Regions from separate parts of the Homo sapiens genome. Here region 2 is linked to region 1. Evidence: fine-mapped expression QTL. A gene starts in region 1. The other region holds a variant in brackets. All regions are shown on one strand. Distances are from middle to middle.

Evidence for each region.
Region 2: its variant is fine-mapped to the expression of PKP4-AS1 in minor salivary gland (GTEx, PIP above 0.99).

The regions. Positions count from the first base shown.
Region 1 is chr2:158,732,612-158,737,995 of GRCh38, forward strand. PKP4-AS1 (PKP4 antisense RNA 1) reads right to left here and starts at 2,391. Exons shown (of 4, transcript NR_135242.1): 1 at 2,117-2,391.
Region 2 is chr2:158,505,667-158,511,050 of GRCh38, forward strand. The region is part of intron 1 of PKP4 (plakophilin 4); the gene reads left to right. Among named protein-coding and RNA genes, the nearest start is that of PKP4, 51 kb to the left of the region's middle. The variant C/T (reference allele first, on the strand shown) is at 2,519.

The DNA of each region.
Region 1 (5,384 bases):
ACCGCTGTGGAGTCAGTTGTAAAGGCACATATCACCAACACTCACACACCAAGGAACTTTCATCCTTGTGTTCCAGTTACAAAGGTGAAGCCAAAAGGTTAAAAACAGACACAGCAAAACACACTGGGGTTATTAGTGTTGTCTCTCATAATTCCTAATGCTGATTTCAGCATTTTCTTAAAAAGGAAAAAAAAAAGTGGAAGCTAAAAGTACAGAGGTTTGCAACAGATTCTCCATATTTCTTTGATCCAAAACTGCACCTTCTCCACTTTTTAGCATCTCTGATATCAGAGTACAGCTTGCAATCGGTGGTATGCTACAACTAGCTTGGTCCTAGCTCCACTCCCCGCCATCACACTTCAGTGAATTATGTGCTGTGCTGGCACTACACATGTTGAGTTTCACTGCCATTTAAGAGCTTTCAAAAAGATTATGTGACAATTTGGCATTGAAATGAAAAATTACTGCATATACAGAAGAGCATGAAAACAGAGCAGCAAGACATAAATTTGATATTAGTGAAACCATTTGTTGGAGGAATAATCACACTTCCATATTTTCTTGCAAAGAAGCAACAACCAATAGGATCAATTGCTTTATAGCTTTGCTGCTCAAACTGTAGTGCTGGGGCCGGCAGCATTGGCCTCAGCTGGGAGCTTGTGAGAACTGCCGGATCTCAGGCTCTAGCCCAGACCTGTTGTATATCTACTGTTTAGCAAGATCCCCAGGTGATTTGTATGAACAGGGAAGTTTGAGAAGCATAGCTTTATAGGGCTTATGAAGGGAAGATATCCACAAGTAGATAAAGCTGAGTTAGGTTTGTTACCACGATATACACAAAAGGATCATCTATCACACACTAGGCAAAAAAGCTTGTAAAAACAGATGTCAGCGGCTGAAAAAATACGGGAGACCATAAGAGAGTGTATCGCCAGTTCACATGAAAGCCCAGAGGATGTTAATTGTGTGGTTTGGAAAAAATGTGTGGCATTGATGACTGCAAAGTGGTTCAGAAGAGTGAGAATGTGAAGTTTTGTGGAACACCTTAAGCAATTCATTTCACTTGTGTTTTCCTTTTTAGATACGTCGAGTGCTACACGTAACAAGAGATGTTTAAATAAATATGAAAGAGCTCTTTCAATATGGAAAACATTGTATCAGGAAAGAAAGCATTGTGTCATAGTTTAATTTGCAACTATTTTTTTCCTTAACTATATAGAAAATGAACATATCTTATAATAAAAGGCATCTCAGATTTAATGAAATATATATGGAAGTTGCCCATACTTTGCTATAATTGCCTTTTGCCTTTTCTCTTAGAGTTGAAATTTCAGTAACCATTGTCTTCACTCTGGTGATTACTAACATCAAGATATTTTACTTAAAAAACAAAATTTTGAGTTTGTTGCTTTTGCTTTTTTTTTTTCCTTTCCTTGAGACAGAGTCTCGCTTTATCACCCAGGCTGGAGTGCAGTGGAGTGATCTCGGCTCACTGTAACCTCCGCCTGCTGGATTCAAGCAATTCTTCTGCCTCAGCCTCCTGAGTAGCTGGAATTACAGGCACATGCCACCACGCCCAGCTAATTTTTGTATTTTTAATAGAGATGGGGTGGGGTGGGGCGGGGCGGGGCGGGGGGAGGGTCACCATGTTGGCCAGGCTGGTCTCGAACTCCTGACCTCAAGTGATCCGCCAGCCTTGGCCTCCCAAAGTGCTGGGATTACAGGCGTGAGCCACCACGCCCGGCCATTGCTTTTGCTTTTAAACTTTATGTTTTTAAGGGCTATGTACTCAATGCCATTAATCTACTAAGAAAAGAACAGTTTGTCTGCTCTAGCCGCCGTACTTTAGAATTTAGAAAATTAAATAAGAAAGGAAAAAATGTCACGCAAGAGGTGGAAATGATACAGCAAGACTGCCGTCCAGACAGACTTTAACAGTGATATATCCTCTTTTGCTATTTCAAACAATGGCAATCACATTTTAAAAAACCGAATAGCTGCTTTCACAATGAGCTCAACCTGAGCTCATTTAATCCTGAGAAACCTGTGTAACAGGTAGTACTATCTTCTTTTTCACAAATAAAGAGAGCGAGGTCAGTGAAATGAAATAACTCACCCAAGAAGAGAAGTGTTGTCAGTGGTGGGCCCAGAATTCAAAGGAGGCATCCCCCAGCCCCCTAAGCCAGCGTCTCTGCAGTGGCAGCTCCTCCATACACACTGGAGCCTGAAGCCTGGATTGGCCCTCTGGCGACAGATTATTTGAAAATCATTCCTCAGTTTTAGTGAACAATCCATACATTGTCTTCGTGGACTTGAAGGTCTTCAGTGGGCTGCCTCCTGAGGCTGCCTTTTGCTGGGTAATACCTTAGGATGTGAGAGCCGCTTGCCTTTAAATATGGAACCAGCTGCTACGTGCTCTTGACCACGGCAAAGCTGGCAGGACCTCAGATTTCCTTATGCGCAAAATGTCCCCATTTTTTGCAGAGTTTCTTGGAGCGTCCTTCTAAGGTTGAGCTCAGCTCACTTCACTAGGTTGTCATTTAAGAGCATATTGTGGGATGGACCTCATGCCTGACCCTGGGGTGCCATCTCACTGCCAACCTTTGACCCCGCTTTATGGCCTCACTGAGAACCTTCTCCCCCAAGATTCTCACTCCTTTAAATAACTCAGAATGCTAGTCTAAAAAGTTATCCCTCTTCCTTCTCATTAACTGCATTAGTGGTTTTCCATCTTTGCCAACATTGGAATCACCTGGGGAGCATTACAAAAATCTCCAGGCTCGGACCACACCTCCTGTCAATTAAATCAGAAGCTGTGGACGTGGGATCCAGGAACAGTATTTTTGAAACTGTGCAGGTGATTTCAATATGCAACCAAGTTTGTGAGACAGTACATCAGGTTAGTTGTCCACGAGCTTTACTTTTATAAACCTTTCCAATTAAGTTTTTCACTTTAAGTTAAAAGCCCTTCAGTATTAGACCAGGTGGGGTGGCTCATGCCTGTAGTCCCAGCACTTTGGGAGGCTGAGTGGGCAGACCACCTGAGGTCAGGAGTTCAAGACCAGTGACCAGCCTGACCAACATGGCAACCCCATCTCTACCAAAAATACAAAAATTAACCCTGCATGGTGGTGCCTGCCTCTAATCCCAGCTACTCTGGAGGCTGAGGCAGGAGAATCACTTGAACCCAGGAGGTAGAGGTTGCAGTGAGCCGAGATGGTGCCACTGCACCCCAGCCTGGGCAAAAGAGCGAGACTATGCCTGAAAAAAAAAAAAAAAAGAAAAGCTCTTCCGTATTCTTCCCTCACCTGCATAACCACTTTTCAAAAACACCTTTTGTTTTTATTACAAAAAGAACACACATTTATTGTGCAACCTTTAGTTTTGCAAATACAGCTAAGCAAAGAGAAGGAATTACAAATCACCAGTGATCTTACTATGAGGCAATAATTCCTGCTAATGTGTTCATATGGATTTCTCTAGCATCTTTTCCTTGTTTCTATCATGTGCATGTGTATTTTATTGTACATATGGTTTTGTAGCCTCCTTTTCTCATCTGAACGCCTTTTCGATTGAACTTCTCAACCTCCTGTCTTTTCCTCCTCTGACCTGACCTCTGTAACTTTAATAAGTCAGTTTTTCTTGGGCCTTTCAACTTGACCTTCTGTGAATTCTGAAGCCTCCTTTTAACCTAATGGCCAATTCAGTTCACAAGTGCTAAACCTGTTCCTTCTGGAGTCACTGTCTTTCCAAATGGCTCTACCATCTGGCTGCCCAACTGCTCAAGTCAAATGTGTCTGAGGTCATCCTAGATTCCTTGGACACATTACACTGCATTTCTAACCAACTATCAAAGCATGTCTATTGTGCCTCTTAAATATTTTTTGAATCCTTATTCATCTCTCCATCCACATTTGCAACTTCCATCCAGGGCCCCATTACATTTTGCCTCCATTGTCACAGCCTCCTAACTAGCCTCTTTATCCCCAGCCTTGCTTCCCTCTAGACCACTCCCCCACAACATCTGGGTGATATCACAAAGTTATTACCTTTGAGATAAAGTCTACACTCCTTCCTAAGGTTTTCAAAGCCGATATGAGCCAGCATCTGCTTAAATAATGCCCACTCTATCCTTCTCCCATGACTCCACCACACACCTGGTCCATGATGCTTCAGAAACATTGACTGCTTCCCTCTTTGTTCTACCTTAAACACGCTTCTCGTTTCTTCTGGTGAATGCCTGCTCATTTTGCAGGTCTCAGATGGATCCCCGCTTTCCTGGAGAAGTCTTTCCTGACTCCCCAGAGCTGGATCAGATGCCTCTCTTTGTGCTCCCCTAATACGCTGTATCTGCCCTATTGCAGCACACATCACATTGAATTGCACTGGCCTCTTTTCTTGGCTGTGTCTTCTCCAAACTGGAACACCAGGGCCACATCTGTTTTGCTCGACATAATGTCTCCAGCATCTAGCAACACTAACGAAAACATCTGTTGAATGAATGGTGAATGATTGAAGCCCTTCATACCACAACATGCAGTCTTGCGGCACAGACAGGGGTCTTTTCTGTATTGTGCTCTCAGTTGCAACACAGAACATCAACAGGTACTGGGCAGTGTCTTCTCTATAGAGCAAAGGGGCCCAGTGATAAGGGGATGACTTCCTCCTGCCCTATAGACCAGTCTCCCAAACTTTCTCGACTGCATAGCCTTTCCTAGTTCTTTTTTTCCCTCTTCCTGGCTTCCTCCAGCTTTGCAACCTTCAAGTCAAATTAGCCAAGTTGAATTTTATATGAGCTTAGTTTTATTTTTCACAGTGGAAGCTCCTCATCTCTTCATCAATAATAGACATCACTGTAACCCAAAGCTCTGTGGCTTTTCCAATAGAATCATGTTAATAAATATCTGGTGTTAGTTTGCTGTTGATAGCAACATTTCCAACTCTTTAGTGTTGGCCAAAAAAAAAAAAAAAAAAGAAAAAGAAAAAAAAGAAAAAGAAAGGAGTTGGCAAAAGCAGAGAAGAGCAGGCATGGTTTCTAGCCTTTCTCTCAAAATGTGAACCCTTAGTGCCCCTGAACTAGCTGGATGCCATTCTGGGGATAGAGCAGGTTTTACAGAAGCTTGTGTATTTATAATTTAGGGGTTTTCTTTAAGAAAAAGAGTATAAAACTATAGATATATGGCTTGCAGTTCTTGAAAGTTGCTTGTGCAAGTGCAGTGGGGGCCCTTGAAAACCATCCTTCATTCAATTAATTTGCTTTCCATCTCTATCATAATTTTTATAACTGGAGAAACTGAATCCTAGAGTAATGGAGCTGAGCATGAGTCAGCTTGAGAAGCTCTGGTTGCCCAGCCCTCCCTGCTGCAGGACCTGCAGTTCGTCGT
Region 2 (5,384 bases), 230 kb before region 1:
TTTGGAGTGGCAGGGAAGGGGGTTCATCAGGATCAGAGTCAGGTCAAGAAAGGCTTCTTAGGTGACGTGACTCAGCAGAATGAAGGAAGAGACAAAGCTGGGAGAGGGCATGCCAGGGCCTGGAACTGCAAGTGTAGAGGTAGTTGCAGGGAGGGATAGAGTGCTGCTGTCCCTGGAAGTACCGGTGTGGAGGAGGTGGGGTCTGAAATGTGCCCACCTTTCCACCAGCAGATCTGGTGAAGAAGACCATAAGTACACAGGAGGCGCATCCCTCAACTGTGAGCTTCAACAGCCCTGTTTTGAAACCTTAAGTAAAAGATTTGTAAAATAATAAGCCTGAACTTTTTCCCTCCAAGCTATACTGTGAAATGTGAATTTTAAAAAGAATGGTTGTGTAAATATGAAGAAAGTACTTTCAAATTAGATGATCAGACTGCGTTTCCTTCAGAATTGTGTTGCTTTGCTTGAACATGGCAATTGAAAGATCCCAGAAGCAAGACTGTGGACAAGTTATGCCCTGGCTTTGAGCCTCCAGTCACCTTGCTCTGCAGTGCAGTCCTTGATGTTAAGTGGCCTTCCTCCAAGCTTTAGGAAGCCTCAGTGCAGGTTGTGGTTGAGGAGATGAAGAAGGCCTAAGAGGAGCAGCTCCTGTTTTTATAATTTTTTGTATCAGTGCTCCCTCCCAAGGGTATTTAAGTAAAGGTATTAACAAAATTAAGAATTTGGCAGACAGCTCAGTTAGACGATCACCAAGGTCCTTCTCATTTCTAAAGTTATTTGAAGCTGCTGTTTTCATTAGTCCTTAAGTATATGTTGCTACCATATAATTTGGCCACAAAAATGTTTAGATATGTGTCAAAGTCCTCAGGGCTTCCTGACAGAAGTGCTTCTTGACTGATTGTGTATTTGGTACAAGGGCTTCTTTGGTGATAGTTTCTACTCTCTTTAAATACTGTTCTGTTATTTTTGAAATCTGATCAAGAATTGACACAATAAATCTCTTTGATATTTATACTTATGCCTACTTTTAACCTTTTAGGAAAACTTTATGAATTGGAATATTCTAAAATCCTGAAATAATTTGGAATATTCTAAAATTCTGAAGAGAATATGAACGGATTGTTGGAATGGAACTTTTACCCGATTCCCTCAGACTAGAGTGTTCATACGACATTTTGCCAAGAAGTTCCTATAGAGGCAATATCACTTTTAGGATGGATGGGTCTAAAAGGATCATATTTAGTTTCTGGTTATTCATGGTTGCACTCACTTTAGAGGATGTGTTCCTATTAGGTTGCTGCTACTATTTGTCTCTCCTAAATAACAGTATGGAATTATAGAAAGAAAGGTTGGGAGAATAGTCGTGTGATTCTCCTGGTCAGCATAAAGCCTGTTCCATCCAGCCACTGACTATTTTGTTCTTTCTTTTGCTTTGAAGGCCAAGATGACATTTCCATTACTTCGATGTTTTTATGTTCTATACCTCTCTCTTGCTCCATATATTTTGCAGTGGTGCAGATATATTGATCCATAAATGACTGGTATTACATACTGAATCAAGGTACATGCATTCAACTCTAGAGAGAATTGTTTCTGGGTGTTTTTCACTATGTGACTCACCACTGTGAAGGTATGAAGATGAGTTTATGCCGCTAATGGGGTAGCTTTGTTGTGATGTAATTTCAGTAGCTGCCCATGGCAGCTGTTAGTCGAAGGTAAATTCAAAGCCAGATGGTTTAGATATCACAGTGGTGAAGATCAACAGAGTACCGTGAAACCAGGACTCGGTCATGGCAACCTGAGACTGTTCTAGCTAACTCTTTCTAATGTGTTTCATCTGGCACTTTGCCAGTTCAGTCCCTTGCTTACCTTTCCCCATTTGAAAAACTCTGCTTTTGGAGGGAGAATGGATTACAGGTCTTGACAGAGGCTTGGACTCTTGACTTCTTGGTTTGTTTTTTTAAATTTAAAAAAGAATTTCAGTTCTTTTGTGACCATCACATTACTGAAGTTAACATTGATGTCTTGCTCAAACTTATTTTTTTTCTCTCACACATTTCAAAAGAACCAAGTTAATACATTGAATTGAGCAGTCTGATAAGAAGGTAGTGTGGGGGGGTCTCCGGGTCCACAGAATTTCCTTGAGTGTGGATTGCTGTGTAGGAAAAGCTCTCTAAATTTTTTCTGCTGGCTGAATGTAGAGTAATGTGACCCTGTTGCTCTCCGTGGTGAGCTTTCCATAATTGAGATATTCCTGGATTCATTGCCAGGAGTGGACTTCCTTTACCTCTGCTCTGCCACAGGGTGGCTGCTGCCTTTCTCCTTTAATAAGGTATGTTCAGTTTCCCCCACTCAAAGACCATTTCATCCCTTAGACATTCTACCCAGGACATTGAAAATAGAAACAAGGCCAGGCACAGTGGCTCACGCCTGTAATCTCAGCACTTTGGGAGGCCAAGATGGGCGGATCACCTGAGGTCAGGAGTTCAAGACCAGCCTGGCCAACATGGTGAAACCC[C/T]GTCTCTATTAAAAAAAAAAAATACAAAAAATTAGCTGGGCATGGTGGCAGGCACCTGTAATCCCAGTTACTTGGGAGGCTGAGGCAGGAGAATTGCTTGAACCTGGAGGGGCAGAGGATGCAGTGAGCCAAGATCACGCCATTGCACTCCAGCCTGGGCAACAAGAGCAAAACTCCGTCTCAAAAAAAAAAAAAAAAAAAAAAGAAGAAGAAGATGCCAGTGAAGGAAAGTTAGAAACCACTGCGTGTCCTAAGCAGTTCCTAACTCCCATGGACAATTCTAGCATGAGTTTTGTAATAGTTTATAATTGACATATAGGTAGAAAATTGATACCAAGAAACCCAGCTGTTCCTAGAGTACTAGTAGTAACTCAGAAAGAGTAGAGAATTGTACTGTAAAATGAGCAGATTGCCTTTTCACTTTCTTTTTCTACTCCATCAAAGTGCCAGCTTGCTCCATCTTTGCTAAACGTTAGATTAAATGTCTTATTTATCATGATACCTCTGATGTTCAAAATTACATATGTTGCTGTAATTCTTATGAATTGTGAGCATACATTCTTCTGCGTAAACAGATGGTACTGTTGACACAGGCTTTATAATCCTAGTAGGCTGGACATCAAAATTTTATATTTCTACCATTACCTTAATTGTAGAGAGGTTCTGGGGTGACTGTGGAAAGTCATCTAACATGTGTTCTCTTTCTTTGCACTGCTGGGTTTCTAAATATTTATTAATCATTATTTATACTCTGTAATGCCATACTTTATTGGTGAATGTACCATCTTTGGGAGGTCATTAGATATTCTTTAGTATCTAAGAGAAATATCTACCTATCAGTGAATTTCAAATTATAGTTTATGGTCTTCAGATTAATGAAAAGCAAGTTCCCACCCCCACCAAAAATTAAAATGACACAAAAATGCATCTTGGGAACATCACAATATTTTAAACTGAGAATACTAATTTTTTGAGATTTGATTATATCACATATGACTTAGATTCTGATAGATTATGAATTTGTAATCAGTTCAATTTTGTATACTGAAATTATCTTTGCACTCTGAATAAATGAAGTATCAAGCAAAATTTTAAGAGTAACAATATTTTAAGAGATATAAACACAGTTAAAATCTTTGAGGTATTTTACCACTCACTTTTAGAATTATCAAATGCTGCTTTGATCTTTTCATCAAATCAGAACAGATATCTATATTTTTATTGGCAACAATAAAAACAGTCTGTGAGGAAATGAAACAATCCAGTCTTTCATTTTCTTGCTCATTTAATCTGAACAGGTGATGTTTCAGTATATTGAGACATAAGACAATCAAGACTTTTTGAGACATAAGACAATCAAGACTTTGTTAACAGCTTTCTAGATTATTGGTGGAATTATAGCTCTGATTTATAGGGTCACATTAAAAGTACTCCTTTGTGTACACTAGGTCTGGAGGTGATGATATAGAAATACTAGTGTGGGCCGGGCGCGGTGGCTCACGCCTGTAATCCCAGCACTTTGGGAGGCTGAGGCGAGTGGATCACCTGAGGTCGGGAGTTTGAGACCAGCCTGACCAACATGGAGAAACCCTGTCTCTACTAAAAATACAAAATTAGCCAGGCGTGGTGGCACATGCCTGTAATCCCAGCTACTCGGGAGGCTGAGGGAGGAGAATCGCTTGAACCCAGGACGTGGAGGTTGCGGTGAGCCGAGATCACACCACTGCACTCCAGCCTGGGCAACAAGAGCAAAACTCCATCTCAAAAAAAAAAAAAAAGAAATACCAGTGTGACCACATTGTAACATAGGTTGTGTTATTTCCTGCTAATGGAATGTAGCTTCCTTGACTTGTGGTTATTTCCCAAAATTCTTCCTTTAAGAAATTCAAAACCCTCACCTAAAAGGAAAGAAGTTACCCAAGTAGGAAGATTGAAAATGAAATCTGATTCTTTCTGACATTTTTACTGCCAACTAATAAACAAAAGACTTCATTAAGGAAGCAGACTGTTCAGTGGTTCTTTGTGTCTGAATATGACTGATCTAATATATTAAACATTTTTCTGTAAATGTAGCAGTATAGTGCCAGTTTCTATTTTCAACTCCTCAAATAGTAGAATCAGTTCTGTCAGCAGGCATTTTATTAAATGCCTCAGAACATGTGTTAGACATCATAGAAAATACAAACATAGAAGACAGGGATCTTGGTCTTATTAAATTTAAATCTAAAAAGATGTGGGAGCATTTTAAAGAGCAAATACAAGTGGGTGAAAATGAGCATTGCGTGTTGCTAAGACTTGAACTAGATTGGTTGGACTAGAGGAGTGAGTCATCGAAAAAAGGCAATTTCAGAACACATTAATGAATGTCTTCTTAAGGATGAGGCACTTGCAAAGTGCCTGTGTGTCAAAGGAAGAAATGATTTGGTGATTCAAGTGGTAGTGGAGTTGTTTGACACTTGCTTGTGGGCTTTGAAATGATAAGAAGAGCAGGGCTGGAGTTCCAGGAGGGCTGGGCCAGATTGGGCTGGTGGGGTGGGGTGAGTCCACTTCCCCTGCCCAGGCAGCTGATGGAAGGCATGAGAATAGACCTATTCTAAGGCAGCTATGTTGAAAGGGAACTGCTTTCAGCAAGAATGCCCACTGTGCCCCCCATTTGGGGACAAGCAGATGCAGAGGGACCCCTTCCAAATTTACACCTAGATTTTGCCCGAGATTTCTTTAGTGATTGATCTCTACCACTGCATCTGCTCTACTTTTCTGTCACCATTCCTCATTCTTCAAAGTGCAGCTCAATTCCTGTTGTGCCAGACCACAGAGTGGTAGGGGAAGGCCTCTGTGAGCCTGAGTATGGTGAAGGAGGAACCCT